Linked DNA regions of Homo sapiens. The protein of the gene in region 2 purifies or fractionates together with the protein of the main gene of each other region. This does not show direct contact. Each region holds a gene or a part of one and is shown on either strand. Other genes may lie near its edges.

Region 1 (16,064 bases), on a different chromosome or scaffold from region 2:
AGCGCAAGGTGAACCCAGAAGTGCTGATGTAGAAGCTGCAGCAAGTTAGTCAGAAGAATTAGCTAAGATCATTGATGAAGGTGGCTACACTAAACAACAGATTTTCAATGTTGACAAAACAGCCTTCTGTTGGAAGAAGAGGCCATCTAGGATTTTCACAGCTAGAGAGAAGTCAATGCCTGGCCTCAAAGCTTCAAAGGACAGGCTGATGCTCTTCTTAGGGACTAATGACTTTTAAATTGAAGCCAATGCTCATTTAGCATTTTGAAATCCTAGGGCCCTTGGGAATTATGCTAAATCTACCCTGCCTGTGTTCTAGAAATGGAATAACAAAGCCTGGATGACAGCATATCTGTTTACAGCATTGTTTACTGAATATTTTAAGCCCACTGTTAAGACCTACTGCTCAGAAAAAAAAAAATTTCTTCCAAAATATTACTGTTCATTGCCAATGCATCTGGTCACCCAAGAGGTCTGATGGAGATGTACAAGGAGATGAATGTTAATTATATGCCTGCACACACAGCATCCATTCTGCAGCCCATGGATCAAAGAGTAATTTCAACTTTCAAGTATTATTCTTTAATATTTAAGAAATGCATTCATAAGTCTATAGCTGCCATGGATAGTGATTCTTCTGATGGATCTGGGCAAAATAAATTGAAAACTTTCTGGAAAAGATTTATCATTCTAGATGCCATCAAGAACATTCATAATTCATGGGAGGAGGACAATATATTAACATTAACAGGAGTTTAGAAGAAGTTGATTCCAATCCTCGTGGATGTCTTTGAGGGGTTCAAGATTTCAGTGGAAGAACTAACTGCAGATGTGGTGGAAACAGTAAGATAACTAGAATTCGAAGCAGAGCCTGAAGATGTGACTGAATTGCTGCAATCTCATGATCAGACTTGAATGGAATGTTTCCTAAGGATAAGCAAAGAAAGTGGCTTCTAGAGATAAACTCTACTCCTAGTGAAGATGCTGTGGACATTGTTGAAATGACAACAAAGGATTTAGAATATTACATGAACTTAGATGATAAATTGGCAGCACAGTTTAAGAGAACTGACTCTAATTCTGAAAAAAGTTCTACTGTGGGTAAAACGCTATGAAACAGCACAGCTTGCTACAGAGAAATCTTTCATGAAAGGAAGAGCCAACAGATGGAGCAGACTTCATCGTTGTCTTAAGAAATTGCCACAGCCACCCCAACCTTCAGCAAACACCACCCTAATCAGTCAGCAGCCAGCAAAAGGAGGCAAGACCCTCCATCCACCAGCAAAAAGATAACTTGCTGAAGGCTCAGATGATGGTTAGCAGCTTTTAACAACAAAGCATTTTTAATTAAAGTATGTGCATTGTTCAGATACAATACTATTGCACACTTATTAGGCTGCAGTATAGTATAAACAGAACTTTAATATGCACTGGGAAACCAAAAGATTTGTATGACTTGCTTTACTGGAGTGGTTTGGAACCAAACCCTTAATATCTCCAAGGGATGCCAATATTCAGCTGAAATACTAAAGAGGTAAATGGCTGACCTTGGAGAAGGTAAAAGCAGTATCAGAATTCCTACTACATCTTCTCCTGATTCCAATTTCTCTACAGCTACACAAGACTCAGACCAAACCCAACCACTTCCTTTAGGGACACTAAGGGGAAAAAAAGACAAAGGAAGGAGTAATTTGTAAACGAGATTCTTGGCGCTAGAAAATAGGAAAACTGAGATATCTTAGTAATATTAAAGAGACCACGGGAAAATAATTACTATGGTGATGACATAATTCTTGATATAATAAAGTTGTATTTTAACCTACTGTGAACATTTCTATACTGTAGCATGTGTGGGTAACAAACTGTTCTCATTTCTTTATACAGGATTCTGAACCTTAATCTCCAAGGGACCAATGACCTTGGGAATACTGAGGCAATTTTGTAGAATTAAAAAAAAATTTTTTTTTGCCATGTTGCTGTAGCATGCGTGTTGTTAGTAATGAGATAAATAACGAAAATTAATGGGTAACACTTACTGGGCACTCACTATGTGTCAGGCACTGTACTACTTAGCAATATCCAAATTGTCTCATTTAATCCTTTATTTTTAAGAAAGATGGTAAAGCAGAAATTTTTTTAAAGATGGTTGGGCAGAGATAGACACTATTATACAATCTCTATTTTAAAGATGAAGACCTGAGGCTTAAAGAGGTTAATTAATGGACCCAAGGTCACATAGCTAGCAAGTAGCAGAGCTGAGATTCCAATGCAGGCCATCTGACCCAGAGTTCATGTTCATGCACTAAGCTAAACATTAAGGGATGCCTAACAGGCTTTGAAGTATTTTCTCCCACAGTGCTGACAAGCTATTGTGAACCATCCACATTCTCCAATGAAGTCATTTTTATATACGAAAACTTCTCTAATTGGTTAAACCTTATAAATTCAATCCCTCAATTTAAACAATGACAACTACTGAGAGACTGCAGAAAGACATGGCTGTCTTCACCAAATTCACCTTCAAAATTAGCAAGGCAACTTAGTAAGAAGACCTGTCTCCAAGGAAGCTGAACTAGGTAGGACTGAAGTCTATGACTGAAGAACAGTGTTCTCTGTTGGCCTCTGTTGGATCTCACCATGCCAATATGAGATCCACAATGATAAAAGTAAGACCACCCAGGAGGCTACTTATTTGACAGTCTTCCCTTTTTTTTTTTTGAGACAGGATCTAGCTCTGTCATCCAGGCTGGAGTGCAGTGGTGTGATCACCGCTCATTGCAACATCAATCTCCTGGTCTCAAGCAATCCTCCCACTTCAGCATCCCCAGTAGCTGGGATTATAAGCGCGCACCTCCAAACCCAGCAAATTTTTTTTTTTTTGAGACGATGTCTCACTGTGTTGCCCAGGCTGGTCTCAAACTCCTGAGCTCAAGAGATCCTCCCACCTCAGCCTCCCAAAGTGCTGGGATTACAGGTGTGAAGCACTACACCCTGTCAACAAAGTTTTAAGAGTCTAAACTAAGGTGGTGGCGGTTGGAACAGAAAGGAAGGGATGGAGAGAAGACTCCTGAAGGTGCAGCGCTCCCTCCATAAAGCCTTTTCCAACTTCCCAGCAGTAGAGCTGCTTGTGTCTTTGTGCCACCACATCTTGTTCATGGCACCATAACAGCCCTGACAGCACTGACACTCTATACTTGGATTTCAAATCTGGGGTATACCCCATTAGACTGCAAGCTCCAGGAGAGCAAAAACTGTGAGTTAATCATTTTCATATCCTAACACCTTCTTTACTCTGAGAGAGAGGCAGGCTCTGTGCTCATGAGCCTGTACCAACCATGAAGAAAAGAACCATGGCCGGGCACGGTGGCTCATGCCTGTAATCCCAGCACTTTGGGAGGTCGAGACAGGTGGATCACCTGAGGTCAGGAGTTCGAGACCAACCTGACCAACACGGAGAAACCCCGTTTCTACTAAAAATACAAAATTAGCCAGGCGTGGTGGCACATGCCTGTAATCCCGGCGACTCAGGAGGCTGAGGCAGGAGAGTCGCTTGAACCCAGGAGGCAGAGGTTGCAGTGAGCCGAGATCATGCCATTGCACTGGGCAACAAGAGCAAAACTCTGTCTCAAAAAAAAAAAAAAAAGTAAAGAACCTTGTCTTTCATCTTTGAGCCGTTTCATCTTTGAGAAATAGTTCCAAGGCTCCTTTCAAGTCTGCTGAACATCAACACCCCTGACTGAAATGCAAAGCTGGCCATGGGGATAGGCAGGGGAGGAAGCAGAGAATTATGTGATATCTGAACATCTGGCCAGAATGTTCAGTACACACACGAAACATTAATCAGGGACGGTGAACTAAGAGCTGTCTGCAAAAAGATGCTGAAAGGAAAAGAATGAATGAGTTCTTCTAAAATGATGAAGAAGAGAGTTACAGAGTCAAATTCTAGTGAAGATTCCAGAATAATGAGGCCCAAGAAAATCTTTGGCAAAAGACAGCACTGACAAGTTCAAGAATGTAGGTTTTGGACATTCTACAAAATAGCTGACCAGTACTCTTCAACATGAAAGATAACGGAAGACTAAGGAAATATGACAAACATTATGTGGGATCCTGGATAGAAACCTGGAACAGAAAAATGACCAGACATCTCTGATGGCATGTGAATTAAGTGTGCAGTTTAGTTACTAGTATTACACGAATGTTAATTCCCTAGTTTTGATCTTTACATAATGGTTATATGAGATGTTAGCTTTAGGGGAAGCTGGATGAGGAATATACGGAAACTCTACTATTTTTATAATTTTTTCTAAGTTTAAAATTCAAAATAAAAAGTTAAAAAGCAAAGAATATAGGTTTTGTAGCAAGAGTGGCAAGATATGATAATAAAGAAGAGGAAAATGATTAAGCAACTGAAGTATCAGTTGTGAACCCAATTTTCTTGAAGTCTGACATGAAAGCACAGAGATGTAGGCCAACAAGCTAACAAGATAGTAGAACAAGAGCTTTCCAGAAGGGGAAACAACCAGGGCATATACAAAGGCATGTCCCAGTTCATTCAATCATTAAACAACCATGTATTAGACATTAACTACAGTTGAGATGCTCTGCTAGGTGCTGGTCCTTGCCTCTAAGTCTACAGTTTAGTAAAAAGTGTGTGTAAGGAGGCATATAAATAGAATGTGTTTTGTAAGTGTGAGAAGAATGGGCCAGAAGAAAGAGATGATGAGAAGAACGCAGAGGGAGGAAGTGAACTTAAGGAAAAAAATCACTCATGAGATGAAAGAGAAAAACAGTCTGAAATGTTATCAATGAGAATAGCTCTGTATCTGTTCTGGTCCTCCTTATCTGTTAGAGTCACACTTCCAACAAAAAGTAACTTCAAAATGTACTAAACTGACATGCAAAAAGAGCCTATATAAAATGACTTCATGATTAGAATCATATTCTTAGGGCTACTGGGATGAGGCCTTCACAGAATGAAGGATGTATCTGAGCACCAGTTTTCAGATTTTCAGTAATGTTTCTTATACACACAACAACAACAACCAAAAAACCCATATAACAGAAAAACTCAATTACGAAATTACAATGACTACCTTATGAGGCACATAATAATACAAATGATAAACTCACACAAGAAGAAAATAATGCTTAATAAAGCAACCTTGAACTAGTATTTAATATACCTAGTAGATTAGTGGAAAAAATAAATTATGAACTAGTACTATCAAGATTGTAATAAAACTGGGGCCAGCCACAGTGGCTCACGCTTGTAATCCCAGCACTTTAGGAGACTGAGGCAGGAGGATAGCTCAAGTCCAAGAGTTCAAGACCAGCCTGGACAACACAGGGAGGCCCTGATTCTATTTTTTAAAAAAAGGTTGTAATAAAATTGGAACACACACAAACAGTATACTGTTAGCACTGTAAAACAACCAATGATTCATTCCACGTGCGTACGATGTATTACGCCACACATCTGCAGCTGAGATGAGCGTACAATGTATTACGCCACACATCTGCAGCTGAGATGAGCGTACGATGTATTACGCCACACATCTGCAGCTGAGATGAGCGTACGATGTATTACGCCACACATCTGCAGCTGAGATGAGCGTACGATGTATTACGCCACACATCTGCAGCTGAGATGACCCCCATCGTCTCCGACCACTCCCTGCTTTTTACCCATTGCTGCATTTACCCTATGCTTTGAACATTTCACTACCCTGCTTTTGCTCTTAATAATGCCAGTCAAGAATCACTGTCCCCAGTGTCCTTTACCACCCACAGAATCCCTACCCATTCATCAAGGCTAGGATTCCAGTGTCATCTCCCTTTTCTTCAATGACCAAACCAAATCCATCCCCATCGATATATCCCCTTTCCATATCCAACCGTTCCTTCCATTGTGCTCCCATAATACTTTTATTCATAGAGTTAGTTTTCTAAATGTCTGTCTTGCTCCTTACATTATGAATTCTTCTTTAATGTCCATGGTCCATGTCATAATAATTTTAGTGCATGCAATACTTGGCACAGGAGATGGCACATGGTAAATACTAATGACAGATGGGAAGGAAAAAAATGCTACATGAACAAAGCACTTCACTACAATGTTATCTCCAAGAACAAAAACCGGAAAACCACCTAAACATCCAATTGTAGAAGAACAATTTAGGGAAAATGGTCTATCACTCAAGCAAAAAGTATGCAAATATTAAAAATAACATGAAGGAGATGTAGAAACACAGAAAATATTCCTGGCAATGTTAAATTAAAAACATAGAACATAAAGTAGTATATATGCAATGGTTCTAGCCTCACAAAATACGTAAGGACTGTGGGAACAGAAAAATATTGATTGAATTAGGATAATAGTTTTCCTCTTCTCAAGCATTTTCTTTAATACTATTTCTATCACTTTATTATCATTTAAAATTTTATTTCAAAAGAAAAAACTAGGAGGGGGAAAGGAGCAAGTTTAGATATTTCTGTAAGCTCCTGCAATCCAAGAGATATGCTAAGATATTACTGATAGAGGACAAGAGGAGTGGGTGTCTGCAATATCACCAAAACCAAGGGTCCCTTAGCCTCAAATTTGCCTCAAAAAGAATACATCTCATGTCACAAGCCATACTAAATGTGAATTCTTTATTGGAAAACTTCAGAGGTAAGAACTTTTTCCAGACATCTGTGGAATCAGATTTAATGAGAGTGCCCTGGAGTTCATATATGCGCCTATGCCAGCAGAAACTTCTCAGCCAAGGCACTGCTGGGCACACTTCTTGATGAGATGTCTAAGCCTGAAGGCATCAAAAAAGTACATTTCCATATTGGGAACATAACTGGTTCCCTCTTGAAGACTTTTTCCACCACCTCCTGCCCATATTGTAATTCTCCTGTCTTCTCAAATGAATAGTTAACATATGTCAAGGATATACGGCATATACTGAGGCGCTTAGTGCCTATCTCTATTACTTGTAGAAGAACCAATCTCAGCAGAAAATTGGAATCTTCCCACCAAGTCGCCCCAAAAATGAAATGTAGTAAGCACCCAAAAAATGTTAAATACTTTTAATAAACATTTCTTGACACTGCATGATATTTTTCCTGGCTTAGTCTCTGAATTTTAGAAACGGCATCCATCTTAGTCTCTGAATTTTGGAAATGAAAAGAACCAGAAGTCATATCGCTCAGTCTCCTCATTTTACAAGCGATTGAAAAAAAATGATGTATAGAAAGGGAAAGTGACTTGTCCTGAGTCACCCAGATAAGTAATGATAAAAGTGGGATTAAAACCCAAATCTCCCAGATTCTCAGCCCCACTCAGTCTACCACATGAAGCGTTTTTATCCCTTGAAATCTCTGGAGCCCCGGTCTAAATAATTAGTACCACAGAATTTTAAAGCTAGAAGGGGCCTCAGAGAGAGTCGCGTACTTAATCCCCTCATTAGGCATATGAGGAAACTGAGGCCCAGGAAGATTAAGTGATTTGCTCTCAATATCTTGAATGGCAGGGAAAAAGTACAACTTAAGCTCAAAAATCTGCAAACCAATGCCCACAAGAGAGGAAGAGAATGTCTCAGCTGGGGAAAATTTTTCAAGGAAGGGAGATCATTTTAGACCAGGGGATCACAAAGTACAGCATCAGCATCACCTGGGATCTGGTTAGAAATGCAGAATCTAAAGTCCCACAGGAGACTGAATCAAACTCTAGGGATGGGGATGTTCAAATCAGACAATTTTGTTCCCTTATGTCCCTGAGAAGCAAACTTCAGTGGTCGTACTGAGTCTACTTTGTAAATGATAACTATAACCAAAGGCTCATAAGATGTATGTATTATTCAACATGTGGACTATACTTCAACTTTAAAAAGTTTTCAAATCTGAAAACAAAATGGAAAACTACCTCTGAGTGTTCAGCTGGTTTCAGTTCTGGCCCTGCTCCTTACTGGTTGTCTGGCTTTCGGCAGGCAGCTTGACCTCCCTAGGTTGAGTTTCCTTTCCTATAATACAGGCATGCTGCCAACCTCAGAAGGCATGTTGAGAATTAAATGTGATAACTTGTCTGAAAACACTTTGGTTCTGCATCTGGCATATAGCAGGCAGGCAGTATGGCACAGTGGTTAGGAGCTCCAACTATGAAGTAAGACTACCCGGGTACCCTGGACTTGCCTCTACCTAGCTAGATGCCTTAAGGTAGGTGCTCTTTTCTGTACCTCAGTTTCCTTATCTGTACAACAGGGATTAACAACAGTACCTTCCTCATAGGGTTGTTATGAGGATTTAGATAGATCATGCTGGTTAGTAAAGCATCTTTCATGTCTATAAAATGTTACTGTTTTCAAGGAGTTTTTTTGTTTGTTTGTTTTTTGTTTTTGAGACAGGGTCTTGCTCTGTCACCCAGGCTAGAGCACAGTGGCATGATCTTGGCTCAGTGTAACTTCTGCTTCCCAGGCTCAAGTAATCCTCCCTCCTCAGCCTCCTAAGTAGCTGGGACCACAGACACACACCACCATGCCCAGCTGATTTTTAAACTTTTTGTAGAGACAGGTTTTCACCATGTTGCCCAGGCTGGTCTGGAACTCCTGGACTCAAGAGATCCGCCTGCCTTGGCCTCCCAAAGTGCTGGGATTACAGGGGTGAACAACCACGCTTGGCCTCAAAGAACTTTTGCATCCATAAACTCATGACTTTCTGCAAGAGGATGGGTGCAACTGATTATGAACTACATTCCAGCCTTTACCATCTTTTAGGAACAGGAAGAGTGGACATGGATCTTACAAAAAGAAAACTGAATGAACAGAACACATGGGGAATGTACAGAGTTGGAAATAAGGAGACCAGGATTCTGAGATAAGGGCCAGGTGGTGTAAGGAAGCCAGGGCCTGAATAAGGTCCTGAGGTGGATTTTGGGACTGGTGCTGCTTTCCAAGCCTTAGACCATGATTCTGAATTTGGGTTCTGAAACTTAGCCTTGAATTGAGGATATTTCGCTGAGCAAAGGCCTAGAGCTGGTTTTTGGTGCCTAACGGGTGGGCCTCTCACCTCTCGAATGGTTCTAGCCGGCCAATTAACCAAAGTGGGGAACCTGCGATGGGGAAGGAGATGCTCCTGGCTGGCCAGCTGGACATGAGCATGCCCGCCCTAGGCTGGCGAGATCAAAGTGCTCTCCAGTAGCAGACTTAGGAGGTTTCAGCCCTGTTACTGGTTCAGTTCAGTGTTGTCAACCTGAATTAAATGAGTTCTAGTATTGTAGTTCCTTATTGTGCAACCAACATATTTGCATTTTAAAACTCTTAGATTGAACCCTCAGATACAATAGAAAATGTAAAGGCCAAGATCCAGGATAAGGAAGGCAAGTAATATTTTGCAGTTCAGGAAAATTAGCCTGTGGCAACCCCAATCTACCTGTAGGCGCTAGGCATATTTGCTCTTGGTGAGGGGGAAAGGGGTCAGATTGACAAAATGAAATACTTTTGGAATAACACAATAAACAAATGTTTATGATCACGAAGCAAAGCTACCTAGATTGGAATCCTTGAGGTACATTTCACTTGTGTGAATCTGGACACGTTTTTTATTCTCTATACCTATTCCCTCATCTTTAAAATGAAGGTTCCTATATTAACATATTAAGTACTGCCATTAAGATTAAATGTGGTAAGATGTGTAAACATTAAAAAATAATAATAAGGAGACCAGGATTCTAGTTTCAACTCTGGCCACCATCTTGGCCCACAACCTCAGGTGAGTCCCTTTATCAGACTAAGGTTCACTTTCATCCATGAACAAGTGGGTTGAATGAAGGTATCTACCGTATCTCTCAAAGTCAAGGTCTTTATCGTGGCCCACAAGGAAGGCCTACATAGTCTTGTCACATGCCTACATCTTCAGCTTTGTCACTTACCATTCCCCTGCTCACTTCCCGTTTCAGCTACATAGATCCTCTTTCTGGTCCCCTATGAGGCTGCACCAGCTTCTACCAATAGCCTATGTCCATACTTGCTGTTCTTGCTGCCTCCATCATTCTGCTCCCTTCACATGACTGGGTCCCTCTCAACCTTCAGTCCTTTAATGCCCATTCCTCTGTGTCCTTCCTCGACCACATTACATAAAGTAAAAGGTCCTGTCCCCAACTCCCAGGGGTTATTTTCGACAGGAGTGTTGTCCAATAAAAATACAACAAAAGCCACAAACAAAACACCTAACTTTACATTTTCTTTCTTTTTTTTTTTCTTTGAGAGAGAGTTTCGCTCTTGTTGCCCAGGCTGGAGTGCAATGGGATGATCTCAGCTCACTGCAACCTCTACCTCCCAGGTTCAAGCAATTCTCCTGCCTCAGCCTCCCAAGTAGCTGGGATTACAGGCATGCACCACCACGCCCGGCTAATTTTTTATATTTTTAGTAGAGACATGGTTTCTTCATGTTGGTCAGGCTGGTCTCAAACTCCCAACCTCAGGTGACCCACCCGCCTCAGCCTTCCAAAGTGCTGGGATTACAGGCATGAGCTACCACACCCGGCCCACTTTACATTTTCTAGTAGCCACATTTTAAAAGTTTTTTAAAAAGCAACATTAATTTTAATAATATATTTTCTTTAATCCAATATATCGTAAGTGTTATCATTTATTCAACATGTAATCAGCATAAAAGTTAAGGTACTGTACATTATTTTCACGTGGCCAGGGGCAGTGGCTCACGCCTGTAATCACAGCACTTTGGGAGGCCAAGGCTGGCAGATCACCTGAGGTTGGGAGTCAAGACCAGCCTGACCAACATGGAGAAACCCCATCTCTACTAAAAATACAAAAATTAGCCAGGCGTGGTGGCGCATGCCCGTAATCCCAGCTACTCAGGAGGCTGAGGCAGGAGAATCGCTTGAACCCAAGAGGCAGAGGTTGCAGTCAGCTGAGATCTCACCATTGCACTCCAGCCTGGGCAACAAGAGTGAAACTCCATCTCAAAAAAAAAAAAAAAAAAAAAAAAAGATATTGTACATTATTTTCATACTAAATCTTTGAAATCCAGTGTGTATTTTGCACATGTAGCAGATCTAAATTCGAAACTAGTCACATTTTAAGTATTCAATAATCACATGTGCCTAGTGGCTACTATACAAAGCAGTGCAATTTTATAGCATACTCTGCTATATTCCCTTCCCAGCACTTACCACAAACTGAATGCATTGTTTACTTATTATCTTGTAACTTCCCACCAGATGCTCCACAAAAGCAAGAATCTTGTCTTTTATTCAGTGTTGTATACCCAGTGGATAGACTGCCTTGCACACAGTAGGTGTTCAATATATATTTGTTGAGCAAATGAATGAAACTCTTCTAGCTTTAATGGGCTAGCCATTCTAGAAATTCCAAGCCGGCATACAATCACTGATTTAATAACTTGCCTATTTCCCTTCATCTTTCACTATCAATTAAACTGTCTTTAAAAGAAAAATCTCTTGGCTATATAGCTCCCCATTGCTGAACTGTTCTTTCCCATGATGTCTTAAGCGTCCAGGGTCAATTTCTTGTACTTTGGCTGAGGGAGTGGTATGAAAATAACTGCTAATATTTACTGAATGTTTACTCTTTGGCAAGCATTGTCTAAGGACTTTCCATTTCTCAACAGCTTCACAACAGCCCTGTGAGGCAGCTACCGTCACTGTCCCCCATTTACAGATGAAGAAACCAAGGCAGAGAGAAATTAAGTATTTTGTTCAAGGTTACAGCAGCCAGTTAGTAGCAAAACAGAGACTGCCAGCAACCTAGGGGTCCAGACTCATGGCTCTTAATCACCTATTCTTGACTGCAGGGCTGTCTAACAAAAATATAAGCTGAACTATATATGTTGTTTTAAATTTTCTAGTAAACACATTAAAATGTCAAGAGGGGCAGTTAAAATTGGTTTTAAACATATTTTATTGGCTGAGTGTGGTGTGTGGTGGCTCATACCTGTAATCCCAGCACTTTGGGAGGCCAAGTGGGAAGACTGCTTGAGGCTAGGAGTTTGAGACCATCTTGGGCAACATAGCAAGACCCTGTCTCTACAAAAAATTTAAAAATCAGCCAAGCATAGTGATGCCTGCCTGCAGTCCTAGCTACTTGGGAGGATACCTTAGACCTAGGAGTTTAAGGCTACTGTGAGCAATGATTGTGCCACTGCACTCCAGCATGGGCGACAGAGCAAGATCCTGTCTCTAAATAACAATAAAATAAAATTTTAAAAATTAATTAAGTATATTTTATTTCACCCATTATCCAAAATATGATCATTTAATCAATATGACCAATAACCAATGTAATTGATATAATCAGTACGATCATGTAATCAATATAAAAATTTCACTTTTTCCATACTAGTCTCCAACCCAAATGTGTCTTTATACTTACAGTATTTCTCAATTCAGACTAGTCACATTTCAAGCAATCAACAGCCTATGTGGCTAGTGGCTACGACATTCGGCAGTGCAGCTCTACTGCTCCTCGCAATGACCCTCCTATGGAATCAAAGTGGGGGAAAAACTTTGGGGTGGAAGTCAGTACGCCTGAGCTCAAATTCCAGCTCCTTGTTTCTGAGTGACTTTGGACAAGCCCTTTCTGCTCTCTAGGTCCCATACAGTTTCCCCACAAGTTTCCTAGGCAAGGGGGACCCTGAGCAAGATTCCTAGAAACTCATTCCATGCTAGAATTCCCAACATCTCCTGCAAATCGCAGTAAACACAAGCACAGCTTTCCACACTTTAAAACCAGCTTTCATACATATCAGTTGGTACAGTCCTCAAACAACCCTACTAAGGCAGTTATTAGTGTCTCCACTATATAGATACAAAAACTTGGTTCAAAGAGGGGGGGAATGACTTGTCCAAAAGCCACATAGCCAGTCAGTGGAGAAGCTGGAGATCAAATCCAAGTGAGACCAGTGCACTCCCACCGCCGCCACCACCATCACCTCAATGACTGGGGGGACATGAGAGCTGAGAGGACATGGTTGTGAAAAAAAGGATAGTCTGGGGTTTCAGAGGAGTTTCAGGGAACCAGGCCCCAGGGTGAGGAAGAGGAGGTGAAGGGCTCAGGTCTTGAGAAGGGATGAATCGAAAGGGCCCAGGAGGGCTTCGGAGAGCAAAGTAAAACGAGGGGCTGAGACCCCGGGTGGCATGAGAAGTTAGAGGGCCCGGGAGTGAGGCGAGAGGAGGTGAGATGAAAGGGCTCTGGCTCCTGCGACCCCTGCCCAGGTGAGAACGCGGTCGCTCGGCCCTCCCTGCCCCTCATACCTGGTAGCTCAGAAGTTCGCCCACGTCCATGGTACCCGGCCCAGCAAATACTCCACTTCCCTGCACTCACGCCCAGACCGCGGGCCCGTCAGCCGCGGCTCCAGCCACACTGCCGTAAAGTGCGGCGAGCGGAGCCGCAGAGCCAATAGGGCAAAAGTGCGAGCGACAAGCGAGCCGGCCACACCGCGGTAAAAGGACGCGCCGCCGTAAAGCGCGCTGCATTTGGAACAGGGTTGCTTCCGCCTGGAGCCTGAGGGGGCGGGGAAAGGGGGCGGAGACTTAGAGGAGGGGCGGGAGGGGAGAGCAGGGACCAGAAGAAACCAAACTTGATTGCGCGTCCCTAGTGTCCAGGGCGGAGTGCCGGGTGTTTCGTGTGCGCTCTCACGAGCTTCCAGTGATTTATCCTCATTTCACAGAAAAGGAAACTGACGCTCCCAACTGCACCATCCAATACTTTACTCACTAGCCACATATGGCTACCGAGCGCTTGAGATATGGCTACTCCGAAGTGAGATGTGCCATAAGTGTAAATAAAATACACACCAGATTTCTAAGACTTACATTGATTACAGGTTGAAATGATATTTTGGATATACTGGGTCAAATTCATATATTATAAAATGAATTTTACCTGTTTCTCTTTACTTCTTAAATGTGGTTAGTAGAAAGTTTTAAATTACACATGTGGCTCTCATTTGTGGTTCCCATTAATTTCTATCAGATAGTGCTGGCTCAAAAAGTGACTTGTTCCAAGGCTGTACAACTATTACTGGCTGAGAAACTATTGGTGATCACATGTCCCTCTCTAGGCTTGTGTCTGCTCATCTATGCGAAGTCTAACGGTCACTAGATGATCCCCTTGCTACCCAGGTGATATAAAAAGGTTTCTGGAGGAGAAAGTTGCCCATAATTGGAAGAGAATCATTCAGAGTGCATCTGATCTTAAACAAGATCAGAATGCACCTGGGACTTAAGGCTCCATCTTCAAAGGAAATTAAACCTCCTTCCATAAGCCCCTGTCCTTTATATTTATAATTATATTTATGTATTATATTATATTTATATGCCCTTCATATTTATAATTTTGGTCCCCATCCCATCTGCACTGGCTCCAATTATACAGAAATTATTCTTATTCCTCAGAATGACAAATCCTCTCCCCTTCTGCCTGGCCATCAGCACCATACCTCATCCAATTCTCTCATCTTTCGGGTCTCAAATGTCACTTTCTTACAAGGGCTTCTTCAACTCACCCTGGTCCAGGTAATCAACCTCTCTCCTCATTATTCTTTTTCCAAGTACCTGCTCCACTACGTATATATCTCATTCTGTAATTTTGTGCTTAATGGTTGACTATTTGTTTCTTGACAGCCTCATTTACTGGATTGCAAGCTCTATGCAAGCAGGACATGTGTGTGTCATGTTCACCACTGTATCCCCCAAGCCTAGTACAGTGCCTGGTAGAGGGAGAGGTTTCATAATGGGCCTTGTGTGCCATGGTAAAGAGATTAGATTTTGGCTAGGCGTGGCCGGGCGTGGTGGCTCACGCCTGTAAGCTCAGCACTTTAGGAGGCCAAGGCGGGCAGATCACTTGAAGTCAGGAGTTTGAGACCAGCCTGACCACCATGGTGAAACCTCGTCTCTACTAAAAATTACAAAAATTAGCTGGGCATGGTGGCACATGCCTCTACTTGGGAGGCTGAAGCAGGAGAATCGCTTGAACCCAGGAGGCAGAGGCTGTAGTGAGCTGAGATTCCACCACTGCACTCCAGCCTGGGTGACAGAGCAAGACTCTGTCTCAAAAAAAAAAAAAAAAAAAAGAGAGAGAGATTGGATTTTATGCTAACGGCATAAGGAAAGTTTTAAGCAAGGTAGTTTTGTGACTGGGCTTATGTTTTTAAAGGATCACCTATGCAATCTGCATTGAATTCAGTCTATTTGGGTGTCTTTCCCCCTCCTACTTATATAAGAATATGGACTGTGCCCGGCCGGGTGTGGTAGCTCACGCCTGTAATCCCAGCACTTTGGGAGGCCGAGGAGGGCAGATCACGAGGTCAGGAGATTGAGATCTTCCTGGCCCACATGGTGAAAACCCATCTCTACTAAAATACAAAAAATTAGCCAGGTGTGGTGGCACGTGCCTGTAGTCCCAGCTACTTGGGAGGCTGAGGCAGGGGAATCGCTTGAACCAGGGAGGTGGAGATTGTAGTGAGCCAAGATGGCACCACTGCACTCCAGCCTGGCGACAGAGCAAGACTACGTCTCAAAAAAAAAAAAAAAAAATAGAATATAGACTGTGCCTTGTTTGGGAAGACAGGAGAGAGTAATGGTGAGGGTGTACCCTTTGGACCCAGACCCCTGTGTTCTAGTTCATGGTATGTTGATGCCAGCTTGCACAGACAGGTCTACAAAAGCCCATGGTTAAATTTGTAGGAAACTTGCAAGCTGATTGACACCAGGTTGATAGCTTGAAATCAGCCATGCTAGGAGTATTTGTACAATGTAAATCAGCAAATGCTACAAATCAGGGTTGTTAATGTTGTTGTTTTTCCAGAGAGCTACTTGTAGGGTTTTTTTGTTTCTTTGTTTGCTTTTGAGACAAGCTCGGGCTCTATCACCCAGGCTGGAGTGCAGTGGCGGGATCTCAGCTCACTGCAACCTCCCCCTCCCGGGCTGAAGCCCACCTCAGCCTCCCAAATAGCTAGGACTACAGGCGTGCGCCACCATGCCTGGCTTATTTTGTTGTTGTTGTTGTTGTTGCTGTTGTTGTAGAAATAGAGTTTCACCA
Region 2 (16,560 bases):
AAAAAAAAAAGAAATCAGCAAGTCATAAAACTGAACTCCTAGGCTCCTAGAATGGGAAAGAAAGAGGGACTATGCAAAATTAGGTTTTCTGGAAAGTGAAAAATAGAGTGCTTCTTTTGAGTACTGAGCTTTACCAGATCTTTTGGGGATTATGAAGTAGTTGAAACCCTCTCTACAATCTAAGGCCAAAGGCAAATTTTAAATGACTAAAATACATTCTTAGGCAAGTATTAATAATTGTAGTGAGCAAGATTTGGTTCAAAAGTGAATAAAAAGGCCGGGCATGGTGGCTCGTGTGTAATCCCAGCACTTTGGGAGGCTGAGGTGGGCGGACTGCCTGAGCTTAGGAGTTCACCACCAGCCTAGGCAACACAGTGAAACCCCATCTCTACTAAAATACAAAAAATTAGCTGGGCATGGCATGGTGCACCTGTAGTCCCAAGTACTTGGAAGGCTGAGGCAGGAGAATTGCTTGAATCCAGGAGGTGGAGGTTGCAGTGAGCCAAGATCATGCCACTACACTCCAGCCTGGGTGACAGAGCGAGACTCCATCTCAAAAAAAAAAAAAAAAAAAAAGTAAATAAAGGTAGGCTGGGTGTGGTGGCTTGTGTCTGTAATTCCAGCACTTTGGGAAGCTGAGGCAGGAGGATTCCTTGAGCCCAGGAGGTTGAGACCAGCCTGGGCAACATAGCAAGACCCTATCTCTTAAAAAAAAAAAAAAGCTGGGTGTGGTGGTGTGTGCCTGTGGTCCCAGCTACTCAGGAGGTTAAGGCAAGAGGATCACTTGAGCCCAGGAGGTTGAGGCCACAGTGAACCACGATCACACCACTGGGCTCCCGCTGGAGGGCTACGACGAGACCCAGTCTCAAAAATAATACATAAAGGTAGAGCGCAGATAACAAGGACAGAACCCCGTTACATGTCAGCCTGGCTCTTATCATCAGAAGTCTCTTACCTGGCATCAGCTCACATTTCAGAAGGCCCCCTACTTCCTCATTCCTCACTCACTGAAACTATCAGTCTGTAATGAGGCTCAGGACAGATTGAACCTATCTTGTAGGAGATACTCAAGGAAGATCCATAATTGACTGATATACTCCAAATGGCAAGGAATGTGGTTCTGGACAAGAAAAGAAACAGGCCAAGTCACATAGAAACATATCAAAATGACAGCACTTTATTTCTTTTTTGAGATGGAGTCTCGCTCTGTTGCCCAGGCTGGAGTGCAGTGGCATGATCTCAGCTCACTGCAACTTCCGCCTCCTGGGTTCAAGTGATTCTCCTACCTCAGCCTCCCGAATAGCTGGGCTTACAGGCATGCACCACCATGCCCGGCTCATTTTTGTATTTTTAGTAGAGACAGGATTTTACCATGTTGGCCAGGCTGGTTTCAAACTCCTGATCTCAAATGATCTGCCTGCCTTGGCCTCCCAAAGTGCTGGGATTATAGGCGTGAGCCACCACGCCCAGCCGACAGCACTTTATTTTGATGAATTCTTTGGTGTCGGATAAGGTGTGTACTTTGTCTAAATCTTTCCCCACATTCAAGACATTTGTAAGGCTTTTCCCCAGTGTGAATTCTCTGGTGTTTAATGAGGGTTGCACTCTGATTGAAGCGTTTCCCACAGACGGAACATCCATAGGGCTTCTCCCCAGTGTGGATTCTGTGGTGTTTAAAGAGGTCAGAGCGCTGTTTGAAGCTCTTCTCGCATTCTTCACACTTATAGGGTCTTTCCCCTTTATGTAGTCTCTGATGTCTAAAAAGGTTGGAAATATGACAGGTTTCCCCGCATTCCTCACATTTAAAATGTTTGTCTCTACTGTGGGTACTTTGATGACGATTTAGGTGTGAATTCTGCCTGAAGCGCTCCCCACATTTCAGACAGGTGTACGGCTTCTCGCCTGTGTGTGTCCTCTGGTGCTTGGTCAGGGCAGCACTCTGGCTGAAGCTTTTCCCACATTCTTGGCAGCCATAGGGTTTCTCACCTGTGTGGATTCTCTGGTGTCTAAAGAGGTCAGAGCGTTGTTTGAAACTCTTCCCACAGTTACCACATTTATAAGGTCTTTCTTCATGGAGCTGCCTCTGGGTCTCAAAAAGGCTGGAATGATGGAAACTGTCTCCACTGTCAGACTTGTGAGGTTTCAGCACGTGCCACGTCACCATGTGGAAACTTTGCTTGCACTTGTTCCCGTGTTCCTCACTGTCAGTGGGCCTCTCTGCTTTCGGGATGTGCTGACATAGAACAAGGTTGGAACACCTGGCACTGTTCTGCAATTCATTATTTTTAGAGTCTTCCCCTTCTATGGAACCATTCTTATTGACATCTGAGATGCTGTTGAGTCCTTCTGCTTCAGGAGAATTTTCAAGTTTCAGGGGCAAGGGGTCTCCGGACTGCTTTTCCACCCTGTCCTCATGGGTACTGCCACACTTAGAAAACAGGGGGCGCTTCCCCTGGAACGCTTCTTGTAGTTGCCCCTGTGGCTCCGCTTCTTCTAAAATTTGTTGCATTGGAATCAACTCTTTGTTCTCCACTCTGCTTTCCAAACCTGAAACGTGAAAATACAAATTCCTGCCAGTGCATCCCTGTGCAACACAGAAATAAGCAAGTGCTGGCAGAATGTTAAACCCTCAAACCCCTTTTACTTTTTAATTAATTAATTTATTTTTTGAGACGGTGTCTTGCTTTGTCACCAGGCTGGAGTGCAGTGGTCCGATCTCAGTTCACTGCAACCTCTGCCTCCCGAGTTCAACTGATTATCCTACCTCAGCCTCCCAAGTAGCTGGCATTACAAGTGCACGCCACCACACCCAGCTAATTTTTGTATTTTTATTAGAGATGGGGTTTCACCATGTTGGCCAGGATGGTCTCTATCTCTTGACCTCATGATCCGCTCGCCTCAGCCTCCCTATTTATTTATTTTGAGACAGAGTATTACTCTGTTGCTATTTATTTATTTTGAGATGGAGTCTCACTCTGTTGCCCAGGCTGGAGTGCAGTGGCATGATCTCGGCTCACTGCAACCTCTGCCACCTGGGTTCAAGTGATTCTCCTGCCTCAGCCTCCCAAGTAGCAGGGATTACAGGTGCTAATTTTGCTAGTTTTAGTAGAGACAGTGTTTCACCATATTGGCCAGGCTGGTCTTGAACTCCTGACCTCGTGATCCGCCTGCCTCGGCCTCCCAGACTTCTGGGATTACAGGCGTGAGCCACAGCACCCAGCCTATATTTTATTTTATCGTATCTTATTTTATTTTTGAGATGGAGTCTTGCTCTGTTGCCTAGGCTGGAGTGCAGTGGCATGATCTCAGCTCACTGCAACCTCTGCCTCCCAGGTTCAAGTGATTCTCCTGCCTCAGCCTCCCAAGTAGCTGGGATTACAGGCACCCACCACCACACCCGGCTAATTTTTTTGTATTTTTAGTGGGGACGAGGTTTCACCATCTTGGCCAGGATGGTCTCGAACTCCTCTGACCTTGTTATCCACCCCCCTCGGCCTTGCAAAGTGTTGCGATTACAGGCGTGAGCCACCACACCCAGCTATTTTATTTTTTTGAGATGGAGTTTCGCTCTTGTTGCCAAGGCTGGAGTGCAGTGGAGTGATCTCAGCTCACTGCAACCTCTGCCCCCCAGGTTCAAGCAATTCCCCTGCCTCAGCCTTGAGAGTAGCTGGGATTACAGGCAACGTGCCACCACACCCGGCTAATTTTTGTATTTTTAGTAGAGATGGGGTTTCACCATGTTGGTCAGGCTGGTCTCAAACTCCTGACCTCAGGTGATCCACCTGCCTTGGCCTCCCAAAGTGTTGGGATTACTGGCATGAGCCACTGCACCCAGCCTATTTATTTTATCTTTTTGAGACAGAGTCTCACTCTGTCACCCAGGTTGGAGTGCAATGGCGTGATCTCGGCTCACTGCAACCTCCACCTCCCAGGTTCAAGTGATTCTCCTGCCTCAGCCTTCTGAGTAGCTGTAATTACAGGTGCCCATTAACTGGCCTGGCTAATTTTTGTATTTTTAGTAGGTATTTTAGTAGGTATTATAGTAGGTATTTTAGTAGGTATTATAGTAGGTATTTTAGTAGGTATTATAGTAGGTATTTTAGTAGGTGTTTTAGTAGACGGGGTTTTACCATGTTGGCCAGGCTGGTCTCGAACTCCTGACCTCAAGTGATTCACCTGCCTCGGCCTCCCAAAGTGCTAGGGTTATAGGTGTGAGCTACCTCGGTCTCCCAAAGTGCTGGGATTACAGGTATGAGCCACCACACCCGGCACAAGGGAGCAATTTGAGCAAAGCCCTGAAACTTTGCTTCCTACAGAGTAGAGTAGAATATTCCAGGCAGAGCGGTCACATAGCACAAAGACCAGGAGGCAGCGGGGCCTGGCATATTTTGGAGCAGCAAGGCAGTGTGGCCAGAGCAGGCAAAGGGCAGCAGAAGGGATGGGTGGGTGAGCAGGGTGCCAGGGCCCCTGCACATCAGGCATCAGAGGTCCGGCTAATTTTTGGTATTTCTAGTAGAGACGGTGTTTCACTATGTTGGCCAAGCTGGTCTTGAACTCCTGACCTCATGATCTGCCCACCTCGGCCTCCCAAAGTGCTGAGATTTACAGGCCTGAGCTATCACGCCCGGCCAAAATGTATTACTATTTTTTTTATTAATTTTTTTTTTTAAAGAGATGGGGTCTCGCTATGTTGCCCAGGCTGGTCTTGAGCTCCTGACCTCAAACAATCCTCCCATCTGGGCCTCCCAAAGTGCTAGGATTACAGGTGTGAGCCACCGTACCCAGCCAACAGCAAATGTTGACAAGAATATGGAGAAAGAAAAATTATTAGTATTGCTGGTGGCATATACATTAGTTATGGGCTCTTTGGAGAGCAAGATGAACATACAGTTGTTCCCTCTTCTCTGTGGGGACACGTTCCAAGTCCCCCAGTGATGCCTGAAATTGTGTATAGTACCAAAGCCTATATATATATGTGTATATATATGTATATACATACATACGTGTGTGTGTGTGTGTGTGTGTGTGTGTGTGTGTGTATATATATATATATATATGTATATATATATATAAAATGTTTTTTCTTTTTTTTTTGAGACGGAGTCTTGCTCTGTCACCCAGGCTGGAGTGCTGGAGTGCAGTGGCACGATCTCGGCTCACTGCAACCTCCGCCTCCCAGGTTCAGGTTCACGCCATTCTCCCGCCTCAGCCTCCCGAGTAGCTGGGACTACAGGCGCCTGCCACCACGCCTGGCTAATTCTTTTTTCTGTATTTTTTAGTAGAGACAGGGTTTCACCGTGTTAGCCAGGATAGTCTCAATCTCCTGACCTCATGATCTGCCCGCCTCGGCCTCCCAAAGTGCTGGGATTACAGGCGTGAGCCACCGTGCCTGGCCTATAATGTTTTTCCTTATATGTACATCCCTTTAATCAAGTTTAATTAATAAATTAGGGACATTAAGAGATTAACAGTAACTATTAATTATAACAATATACTTAGCTAGGTTTGGTGTCTCACACCTGTAATCCCAGCACTTTGGGAGGCTGAGGCAGGAGGATCACCTGAGGTAAGGAGTTCAAGACCAGTCTGGCCAACATGGTGAAACCCCATCTCTACTAAAAACACAAAATTAGCTGAGCATGGTGGGGCATAACTGTAATTCCAGCTCCTCGGGAGACAGAGGCAGGAGAATTGCTTGGCTTGGGAGGCAGAAGTTGCAGTGAGCTGAGACCACACCACTGCACTCCCCCTGGGCAACAAGAGTAAAACTCCATCTCAAAAAAACCCCCAAAGCCAAAGATAAAAAACGAAAAACAAATGCTATACTTAATAAAAGTCATGTGAATGTGGTCTCTCCCTGTCTTAAAATATCTGATTGTACTGTGGGTAAGTGAAACCGCAGAAAGCAAAACCAGGAAGGGGGGACTACTGCCTGTCTCTAGGCATATTCTCTTCAAAAACTCCAACATAGAAACAAATATACAAAGATATGCAAGAATATACAAGAATGTTCGGTGCAATGCTGTAATGGTTAAAAACTTAAGACACCTAAATGTCCATCAACAGAAATGGAGAGAATTCTGGAGTATCTGGACCGTGAAATAGGTAGAGCTCCATGCATCAACATGAGTAAATCTCAAAAATGTAATGTTGAGTAAAAAAAGCCATACAGTAATGATATACAGCGTGGAGCTACGTGTCTATGTAGAGACAATATAAGACATGCATGGAAGTCATGAACACAACAGTCAGCTTACTGGCTACCTCTGGAGAAGGATAGAGGGGAAGGGTTTCAGGGAGGCTATGTGGGGGCCTCACCTACAGCTGTAACATACTATTTCCTTGGCAATATGGCCAAGTATTAAGATCTGATAAACTTGGGTGGTAGACACAGGGGATGGTCATTATCTTTTTTTTATATAGTTTTCTGTATGTATAAAACATTAAAAATGAACCAAAGTAAAAAGCTGAATCTAGCACCTAGCAGTACAGAGGCTCCTGCTTGCGTTACAGAAGGCACCTGAAGGCTCTCAGCCCAAGTCTGGGAATGGCATAGTGGCTCAGGGATGGTAGTGAACCAGCCCTTCACAAACCACACACCGCAATAAACCAGCAGAGCAACAGCACTCACTCGGCGGAACTGTGCTCCCGGAATCCTTCTGCGCACTCTCTCTGCAGAAGTCCCTCCGTGCTGGGTCCAGGCGCTCCCACTCCTCCCAGGTTAGAGACACAGCCGTGTCCTCGAAAGTCACCATCCCCTGGAACAACACAAGAGCCCCATTCAGTACCTGCTGTCCCTGTACAGCACTAACACTCTTCTTGAGTCTTGTACCGACAAGGGAGTTTGGAGAGATCAGAGATAGAGGCTGACATTCTCTTGTAATCCTGAAAAGCCTTTCTGTGGACTATTTACACTAATTTTGGAGGTAGGTAGGAGCAAAATATTTCTTTAACTTATATCACTGTGATGTATGGGAATGGAAATATGATACAGATTAAAAGTAAACAAGGCCGGGCGCGGTGGCTCACGCCTGTAATCCCAGCATTTTGGGAGGCCGAGGCGGGCGGATCACCTGAGGTCAGGAGTTCGAGACCAGCCTGGCCAACACAGTGAAACCCCGTCTCTACTAAAAATACAAAAATTAGCCGGGCGTGGTGGCGGGCGCCTGTAATCCCAGCTACTCGGGAGACTGAGGCAGGAGAATCGCTTGAACCCGGGAGTCAGAGGTTGCAGCGAGCCGAGATCGCGCCATTGCACTCCAGCCTGGGCAACAAGAGTGAAACTCCATCTCAAACAACAGCAAGAACAACAAGAAAAAAAAAAAAAAGAAAAGAAAAAGAAAGAAAACCAGTAATCCGTGTTCGCTTTATGCTGAGGTCTATAACAAGTCATTTCCTGGATGGATCTGTCACTGTGGCCTACAGAAAGGAAGTCCATACACACCCCAATGTTCACACGAAATGTAATAAGGAAGTAAGTTCCGAAACGCAGAGCACCCCTAAACGCCTATTTTCCACACTCCCACCTCCAGAACAGGCCTTTCGCTTCTCACCTGGGATGAGGTTCCATCGAGCGCTCGCTGCAGAGCCCGCACCACGGCCACCGCCTCCTCCCCGCTCTCTGGGCAGTGCTCTCGCACCCAGGCTTGAAGCTCCTCGGGCAGGATGGTGAGGAACTGCTCCAGCACCAGCAGCTCCAGGATCTGCTCCTTGGAGAGCAGCTCGGGTCTCAGCCACCGACGACAGAGTTCTCGGAGCCGGCTCAGCGCCTCTTCCGGTCCAGCCACCTCCTGGTAACGCAGCTGCCTAAAGTGCAGTCGAGAAGTTTCGGGGTCCGGCGAAGCCGCGGGATAGTTGGGCTCCCAACTTCCGGGTGAGTCTTCCTCCACTTTCACGGGCAAAAGTCCGTCGCGTTGGGACGGCGCCGCGTCCTTGGACCTCGCAGCCATCACCCAGGGTCCCAACTCGGCGTCACTGCCGCGCCTCTGGGCGGTCAAGCTGGAATTCATCTTTCTCCGGCATGTGCTGCCCTTCCTGGAGTCTTCTTTTCAGGTGAAGAAAGAGCAAACCCAAGGAACTCATCAGCCGTCAACACCCTCCGGTCCCAAACACCGGGCCCCACCACACCAGGCCCCTCTCCACACTCTCCTTTCCTCAGCTTTGCGCCTACAACTCTCTCGGTCAAACAACCGAAAACATCCCGTGCCGGAAGCGCGTCATCGAGGCCTTGCGGCACCTTTCCCTGCATTTCCGGGGCCTCTCTAGGCGCCTGATGGGGTGAGGTGCATCTCGCTGGTTTATCGTCCTAGCCCCGCCCGACGCAGAGGGTCTTGACGGTTTCCCGCATCCCGAGGAAATACGGGCGTCCGAGCCGGTGGCCGAGCTCCGGCAAGGGCGGGAACCTTCAGGATTAAATAGACAGGGTCTGGCTCTGTCGCCCAGGCTGGACTGCAGTGGCGCGATTTCGGCTCACTGCAACTTCTGTCTCCCGGGTTCAAGCAATTCTCCAGCTTCAGCCTCCCAAGTATCTAGGACTACAGGTGCGCGCGACCACGCCCGGTTTATTAATTTTTCTGTGGGGATGGGGTTTCATTATATTGCCCAGGTTGGACAAAGTTGTTTTTTTTTCTTTTTTCAGGCGGACTCTCGCTCTGTCGCCAGGCTGTCTTAGCCTCCTGAGTAGCTTGGACTACAGGCGCGCGCCACCATGCCCGGCTACTTTCTGTATTTTAGTAGAGATGGGGTTTCACCATGTTGGTCAGGCTGGTCTGGAACTCCTGACCTCGTGATCCGCCTGCCCCGGCCTCCCAAAGTGCTGGATTACAGGCGTGAGCCGCTGCGCCCAGTTGGAAAAAGTTTTGTTTTTTTTTTAAAACTAAGTGCTTCCATGTACATCAGATGTTAACGACTTTGATCCTAACAAACAAACAAAAAAGATGAGGAAATTGAGGCTCAAAGATGTGTCCTGGCCTGGCTCAGTGGCGTATGCCTGTAATCCCAGCATTTTGGGAGGCTGAGGGGGGAAGATCGCTTGAAGCCAAGAATTGGAGACCCCAATGTCTACAAAAAATAAAAAATTAGCTGGGTGTGGTGGTGCACACCTGTAGTCCCAGTGAGAGGTGAAGCTAGTTGGACTTCCTGGGTCCAGTGGGGACTTGGACAACTTTTCTGTCTTACAAGAGGTTTGTAAAAATGCACCAATCAGCGCTCTGTAGCTAGCAAGAGGTTTGTAAAATGCACCAATCAGCGCTCTGTAAAATGGACCAATCAGCAGGATTCTAAAAGCAGCCAATCGCAGGGAGGATGGAAAAAAGGGCGTTCTGATACGACAGAAACGGACATGGGAGGGGACAAATAAGAGACTAAAAGCTCCCACCCCAGTCAGCGGAGGCAACCGGCTGGAGTGCTCTGCCATGCTGTGGAAGGTTTGTTCTTTCGCTCTTCACAATAAATCTTGCTGCTACTCACTCTTTGGGTCCGTGCCATCTTTAAGAGCTGTAACACAGTGAAGGTCGGAGGCTGCATTCTTGAAGTCAGCGAGAGGATGAACCCACTGGAAGGAACCAACTCAGGATACACCACTTACTTGGGAGGCTGAGGTGGGAGGATCCTTTGAGCCCAGGAGGTAAAGACTGCAGTGAGATATGATCGCACCAGTGCACTCCAGCCTGGGTGACAGAGCAAGACTCTGTCTCTAAAACAAAGTGTCTTGGTTGATGTCAAGCTGCTGGTGATTTGCAACTTGCATAAAATGAGACGATCGCTTGAGACCAGGAGTTCCAGGCCAGCCTGAGCAACATAGAGAGGATGTGTCTCCATATAAAAATAAAAAAATTTTTTTTTGAGAGGGAGTATCGCTCGGGTTCAAGCGATTCTCCTATCTCAGCCTCCCAAGTAGCTGGGATTACAGGCGCGTGCCACCACACCCAGCTAATTTTTTGTATTTTTAGTAGAGACGGGGTTTCACCATGTTAGCCAGGATGGTCTTGATTTCCTGACCTCGGCTCACTGCAACCTCTGCCTCCTGGGTTCAAGCAATCCCCCTCCCCACCCCACGCCCAAACAAACCGAACACTATTTATCAATCCAGGTGTGTTTAATAACTAGACATAAAAATATCTCTTATGGAGCCAGGTGCGGTGGCTCACGCCTGTAATCCCAGCACTTTGGGAGGCCGAGGCGAGGGGATCACCTGAGGTCGGGAGTTCAAGACCAGCCTGACCAACATGGAGAAACTTCGTCTCTACTAAAAAATACAAAATTAGCCGGGCATGGTGGCGCATGCCTGTAATCGCAGCTACTCGGGAGGCTGAGGCAGGAGAATCACTTGAACCCAGGAGGCAGAGGTTCACTAAGCCAAGATCGTGCCATTCACTCCAGCCTAGGCAACCAGCAAAACCATCTCAAAAAAAAAAAAAAAAAAAAAAAAAAAGGAAACTAGTCATCTTGGCTATCTCTAGAGAGAAAAATGAATGTAGAATGAGAATGAGAGGAAGACCTTAAGTGCCTTATTGAATTTTGACTCATGCAAATGTGTTATCTATTTAAGAAATAAATTATTGAAATGCAAAAGGTGTTTATAAATAATTCAAACCGGTTGCGGTGGCTCACGCCTGTAATCCCAGCACTTTGGGAGGCCGAAGCAGGCAGATCACGAGGTCAGGAGATGGAGACCATCCTGGGTAACACGGTGAAACCCCATCTCTACTAAAAATACAAAAAGTTATCCAGGTGTGGTGGCACACACCTGTAATCCCAGCTACTCAGGAGGCTGAGGCAGGAGAATCGCTTGAACCCGGGAGGCGGAGGTTGCAGTGAGCCGAGATCATGCCACGGCACTCCAGCCTGGGCGACAGAGTGAGATTCCGTCTCAAAAAAATAAATAGATAAACAAACAAATAAATAAATCATTTAAATGGAGGTAAATATATTAGAAAAGAATGGGTATCCACCAAACATTTTTTTTTTTGAGACGGGGTGTCTCTGTCACTGAGGTGCTGAAGTGCAATGGCACAATCATAACTCACTGCAGCCTCAACCTCTTGAATTCAAGTGATCCTCCAGTCTCAGCCTGCTGAGTAGCTGAGACTATAGGCATGTGCCACCATGCCTAGCTAATTTTATTTTATTTTTTGTAGAGACGGGGTAAAAAGGCCAGGCTGGTCTTCAACTCCTGGATTCTAGTGATCCTCTCACCTCGGCCTCCCAAAATGTTGGGATTACAGGCGTGAGCCACCATGCCCATCTGGAACAACTTTCATAGACATTAAACAACTTTATACGAGCAACAAAATTAAGCCATAGGTGCAAAATTCTATACCAACTCACTAACACACAAAATACGGGCATTGCAAACATTCACCGGGGGTTTGGTCCTAGATAGGAAGCTACTTAAAATGCAAGATTTTGGGCTCCCTGAAAAGAGACCTTTAACTTCTAAATATCTTCTCATCTTTTTGCAGATGCTGCAATTTCACAGCAGTTCCTTCCTTCGCGCCTGTAAAACAGTGGCAACAGTAACTCTTCTCCTGCCTGCCCATCAACTTTGTAAACTGCGCGGGGCGTAGGGGGAGGGGAGGGCTGGGGCCTGGAAACTATAAAGCACCATATGAAAAGGAGAGCACTGGGAGGTCGATGCGGGCGCATCACCTGAGGTCAGGAGTTCGAGACCAGCCTGGCCAACATGGGGAAACCCCGTCTCTACTAAAAATACAAAATAAGCCGGGCGTGGTGAGTGTGCCTGTAATCCCAGCTACTCGAAAGGCTGAGGCAGGAGAATTGCCCGAACCTGGGAGCAGAGGTTACAGTGAGCCGAGATCGTGCCATTGCACTCCAGCCTGGGGGACAACGAGACTCCGTCTCAAAAAACAAAACAAAACAAAACAAAAACGGGAGATTATTACTAAGAGATGGGGTCTCACTATGTTGCCCAGGCTGGAGTGCAATGGTGCGATCCCGGCTCACTGCATCCTCAGCCTCCCGGGTCCAAGTGATTCTCCTGCCTCAGCCTCCCAAGTGGCTGAGATTACAGGCTCGCGCCACCACGCCCAGCTAAGTTTTTGTATTTTTAGTAGAGACGGGGTTTCACCATGTTGGCCAGGCTGGTCTCGAACTCCTGGCCTCAGGTGATCCACCCACCTCGGCCTCCCAAAGTGCTGGCATTACAGGTGTGAGTCACCGAGCCCGGCCAAGGGAGGGTATTTCTAATAGACAGGGGTCTCGCTATGTTGCCCGAGCTGGTCTCGAACTCTTGGGCTCAAGCGATCCTGCTTCTTCAGCCTGTCCACTAGCTAGGCTTACAAGCGTGGGACCCCGCGCCTGGCTGAAGAGAGGTATCATTAAGGACGAGACCCCCTTGGCCAGGGAAGCCCTGCGTAAGCAACGCCCCTCTCTTCAAAGGGATGCCCCGCTCCCTCCGCCCACTCCCAGCCTTCCAGCCTTGGCTCCCGAGGACACGACTCCGGGCCCTGCCACCTTCTGATAGGCTCGCGAGACCGAGGCTGCAAAGAGAGCCGCCCCCCATTGGCCAACCGGCGAGTCCCGCGCGCCACCTCCTGGGAGATGTAGTTCCGGGAACAGCTGGCCCCTGCGACTCGCGGGTGTGACGTTGAAGATGTCGGCCTTCTGAGCCGACTGCGGTGGTCAAGAGGTGGGTTTGTTTGGAAAGTGGGTGGTGAGAGTAGCGAGGATGCGGGTGAAGAAAACCTAAGGGCCCCAAATTCAACATAAGCGAGGTTTGCGGGCTGTCAGCAAGGTACAGACCTACTTCAAATCGGGGCGCAGAGCGTTGGGGGTGGGGGAAGGCGCAAGCTCCCCGGCCAATCAGACACGAGCAACCTCAGCCCAACTCTGGAGGCCCCGCCCCCTTCCCCGCCCCACGGAAAGGGGAGGAGCTTGGGCTGTTTGAATGGCTTTGGGATGGAGCAGGGGAGAGAGTGGCTCCGTTTGCCTCCCCGCTTTGGTGATGCTGTGCGAGCGGCTTCGGGGGCCCTGGAGACGTCCGAGTCACTGAGGGTGGGCTGGGACTCGGGGCCCGCGTCCCATCTCCCCGCCGATTGGTCCGCCCCCCGTGCGAGGTGAGGTCCTCCGGGATTCCTAGAGAGGACGCGGAAGTGCTTTCGGGGGGGGGTGGGATCTAACGGTTTAACCCCGTTGGACAGGGCAAGATTGGACTTGGTTACTTCCGGCGAGGAAGTGTTGGGGAGTGTCGGCTTCGGTTTCTCTCCGTGGGAAGAACCGCATCTTCCCAGCCTCGGCTGCGGGGAGCTTGATGTTCCAGGAGAGCTCCCCTAGAGTGGGGCCTTGAGGGGAGGGGGCAGGGGCTTCGTGACTGGACGGGGGTCCTGTCCCTAACCTTGACCGGGCCACAGTCTCTGTATCTCGGGGTCAGGGGCCATTCTGAGGAATCCAGGTCCAGATCTGTACCTTATAAACGCTGCTTCTCTTTGGGACCGATGGAGTCTCCCCTTGGCCTGTCAAGCTCTTGTAGCTTAGAGAACAGGCTCAGTTTTGACCATTATAATGATTTTCACCCTTATTCCGACTTAAGTTCGTCTTATGGTAGAGAGAAAGAGCGGCTGCGTCTGGACTAGTTAGTCTCGTCCCGTTATTTATATGGAATGTAAAGTTCTTCACTCTAAAACTGTGTTTTAGGTTGGGCCTGATGTCAGATTTGTATGGCTCTCTTTTACACTTTTAAAATGTTGGGGTTATTCCTTATTATCATTTTGTGGGTGAAGTGATGGCTACCTTGTAGTACCTATTTTTAAGTAAATTACTTTGTTGAGTGGTCGTCTTTAGTATAGATGACCTCTTTGCCATCTGTCTTTGCTAATAATGATGCCCAATACATCAGTAGGTTGCATGCTACTGAAAGTGTCCTTCAGAAGATATTAAAGAGCAGAAAAACAATTGTTTCAGTGTAACACAGCCAGCCTCGAAGACTTCCCTCTGAGTTGGAATGATAATGACCGAATCCCGAGAAGTTATAGACTTAGACCCCCCAGCTGAGACTTCCCAGGAGCAGGAAGACCTTTTCATAGTGAAGGTGGAAGAAGAAGACTGCACCTGGATGCAGGAGTACAACCCGCCAACGTTTGAGACTTTTTACCAGCGCTTCAGGCACTTCCAGTACCATGAGGCTTCAGGACCCCGGGAGGCTCTCAGCCAACTCCGGGTGCTCTGCTGTGAGTGGCTGAGGCCCGAGCTGCACACGAAGGAGCAGATCCTGGAGCTGCTGGTGCTGGAGCAGTTCCTGACCATCCTGCCTGAAGAGTTCCAGCCCTGGGTGAGGGAACATCACCCTGAAAGTGGAGAAGAGGCGGTGGCCGTGATAGAAAATATACAGCGAGAACTTGAGGAACGCAGACAGCAGGTGAGTCAAAGAGAAGCTATATGAGCAATGAAGGAGAGGAGTGAACCATCTGCTGAGCAGGGGTGAGATTCTTAGTCCTCTGCTGCTTCATTCATATTCTTTTGTTCTCCTGGGATTAGGTACCCTGTGACTTCCTGCCACTCCAGCAAAGAGAAGCAATATCCAGTGTGTTAACCTGTAGAAGACAATCTGCGATCTTATTTATTTTTTAAATTACTGTATTTATTTAATTATTTATTTTTGAGACGGAGTCTCGCTCTGTCGCCTATGCTGGAGTGCAGTGGTGCGATCTCGGCTCACTGCAAGCTCCGCCTCCCGGGTTCACGCCATTCTCCTGCCTCAGCCTCCGGAGTAGCTGGGACTGCAGGCGTCCGCCACCAGGCCCGGCTAATTTTTTTTTTTTTTTTTTTTGTATTTTTAGTAGAGACGGGGTTTCACCGTGTTAGCCAGGATGGTCTCGATCTCCTGACCTCGTGATCCTCCCACCTCGGCTTCCCAAAGTGCTGGGATTACAGGCGTGAGCCACCATGCCCGGCCACTGTATTTATTTTTTGAGTGACATGATACAAAATTCAAAGAGGTACATAAGGTTGTAATGAAAAGTAAGTTTTCCTCCCATCCCCAATTTCTCTCAACTGCCTAGTTCTCACCTGTGTATTCTTACAGAGCTGTACCATATTCTGTATGTATAAGCATATATACGTCTCATACTTTGGAAAAACGCAAATGTCTTTTAAGTCACTGTGCACTTCTGCCTCTTTTTTCTTATATCTTGGTTTCTTCCACGCCACTGCCATTGCAGCTATCTCACTCTCTGAAATTGCATTGTATTAACTTTTATGGAAGGAGTTTGAGTTGTTCCATTTAAATTGTTCCTTGAGATTGTTTCTAAATTTGTATTATAACAAACTTTGCTGCAATGACTATCTCACATATATGTCTGTATATATGTGTGTATGTAATATACATAATGTATGTGTTTGCGTATATATGTATATATATGCGTATATATGTGTATATATGTGTATATATGTATATATGTGTATATATATGTGTGTATATATGTATATGTGTATATATATATGTATATATATGTATATATATGTGTATATATATGTGTATATTTATGTGTGTGTGTATATATATATGTATATATATAGGCTGGGCGCAGTGGCTCACACCTGTAATCCCAGCATTTTGGGCACCTGAGGTGGGAGGATCACTTAAGACCAGGAGTTCCACATCAGCCTGGGTAGCATAGCGAGACCCCATCTCTACCAGAAAAACCAAACAAAAAATTAGCTGGGTGTGGTGGCATGCACTTATACTTCCAGCTACTCAAGAGGCTGAGGCAGCAGGATCCCTTGAACCTGGTAGTTTGAGGCTGCAGTGAGCTGTGATTTTGCCACTGTATTCCAGCCTGTGTGACAGAGGCATACCCTATTTCAAAAAAAAGTAAAAAGTTAAAAAAATTTAAATTGAAAAAATATATGTATATAAAATTAACTGTAGAAGGAATGCTTGAAACTCAAAATTGTTGGCTTAGAAATACATGTGTAGGCCGGGCACGGTAGCTCATGCCTGTAATCCCAGCACTTGGGGAGGCCGAGGTGGGCAGTTCATGAGGTCAGAAGATCGAGACCATCCTGGCCAACATGGTGAAACCCCATCTCTACTAAAAAATACAAAAATTAGCCGGGCGTGGTGGCACGCACCTGTAATCCCAGGCACTCGGGAGGCTGAGGCAGGAGAATCGCTTGAACCTGGGAGTCGGAGGTTGCAGTGAGCCGAGATTGTGCCACTGCACTCCAGCCTGGCAACAGAGCGAGACTCCATCTCAAAAAAAAAAGTACATTTGTAATTTTGATAGCTGTTGACAGGTTGGTTCCCTCATAGAGGGTATAACAATTTAGAGTACCACCAACAATGTATGAGAGAAATTTTGTGGCCATAGCCTGGTAGAACAATGTTATCAAAATTGGTCATGATTGCCAGTACATAAGATGCAATATTGGCCGGGCATGGTGACTCACGCCTGTAATCCCAGCACTTTGGGAGGCTGAGGCGGGTGGATCATGGGGTCAGATCAAGACCATCCGGGCCAACATGGTGAAACCCCGTCTCTACTAAAAATACAAAAATTAGCTGGGTGTGGTGGCATGCACCTGTAGTCTCAGCTACTTGGG

Evidence for each region.
Region 1: the proteins of ZNF394 (region 2) and CTNNBL1 purify together in Homo sapiens (affinity purification with mass spectrometry; 2 studies listed by BioGRID and IntAct, with this or other methods). This does not show direct contact.

What each region holds. Positions count from the first base shown.
Region 1 is NC_000020.11:37,691,365-37,707,428, reverse strand, and holds the start of CTNNBL1 (beta-catenin-like protein 1), read right to left. Parts: upstream 13,400-16,064; 5' UTR 13,307-13,399; coding exon 13,277-13,306; intron 12,503-13,276; exon of another isoform or gene 12,396-12,502; intron 1-12,395. UniProt on the Homo sapiens protein: Component of the PRP19-CDC5L complex that forms an integral part of the spliceosome and is required for activating pre-mRNA splicing.
Region 2 is NC_000007.14:99,492,085-99,508,644, forward strand, and holds ZNF394 (zinc finger protein 394), read right to left. Parts: upstream 8,198-16,560; 5' UTR 8,010-8,197; coding exon 7,554-8,009; intron 6,759-7,553; coding exon 6,632-6,758; intron 2,548-6,631; coding exon 1,445-2,547; 3' UTR 1,156-1,444; downstream 1-1,155. Other genes in the region: ZKSCAN5 (zinc finger protein with KRAB and SCAN domains 5), read left to right, coding at 13,961-14,374. UniProt on the Homo sapiens protein: May be involved in transcriptional regulation.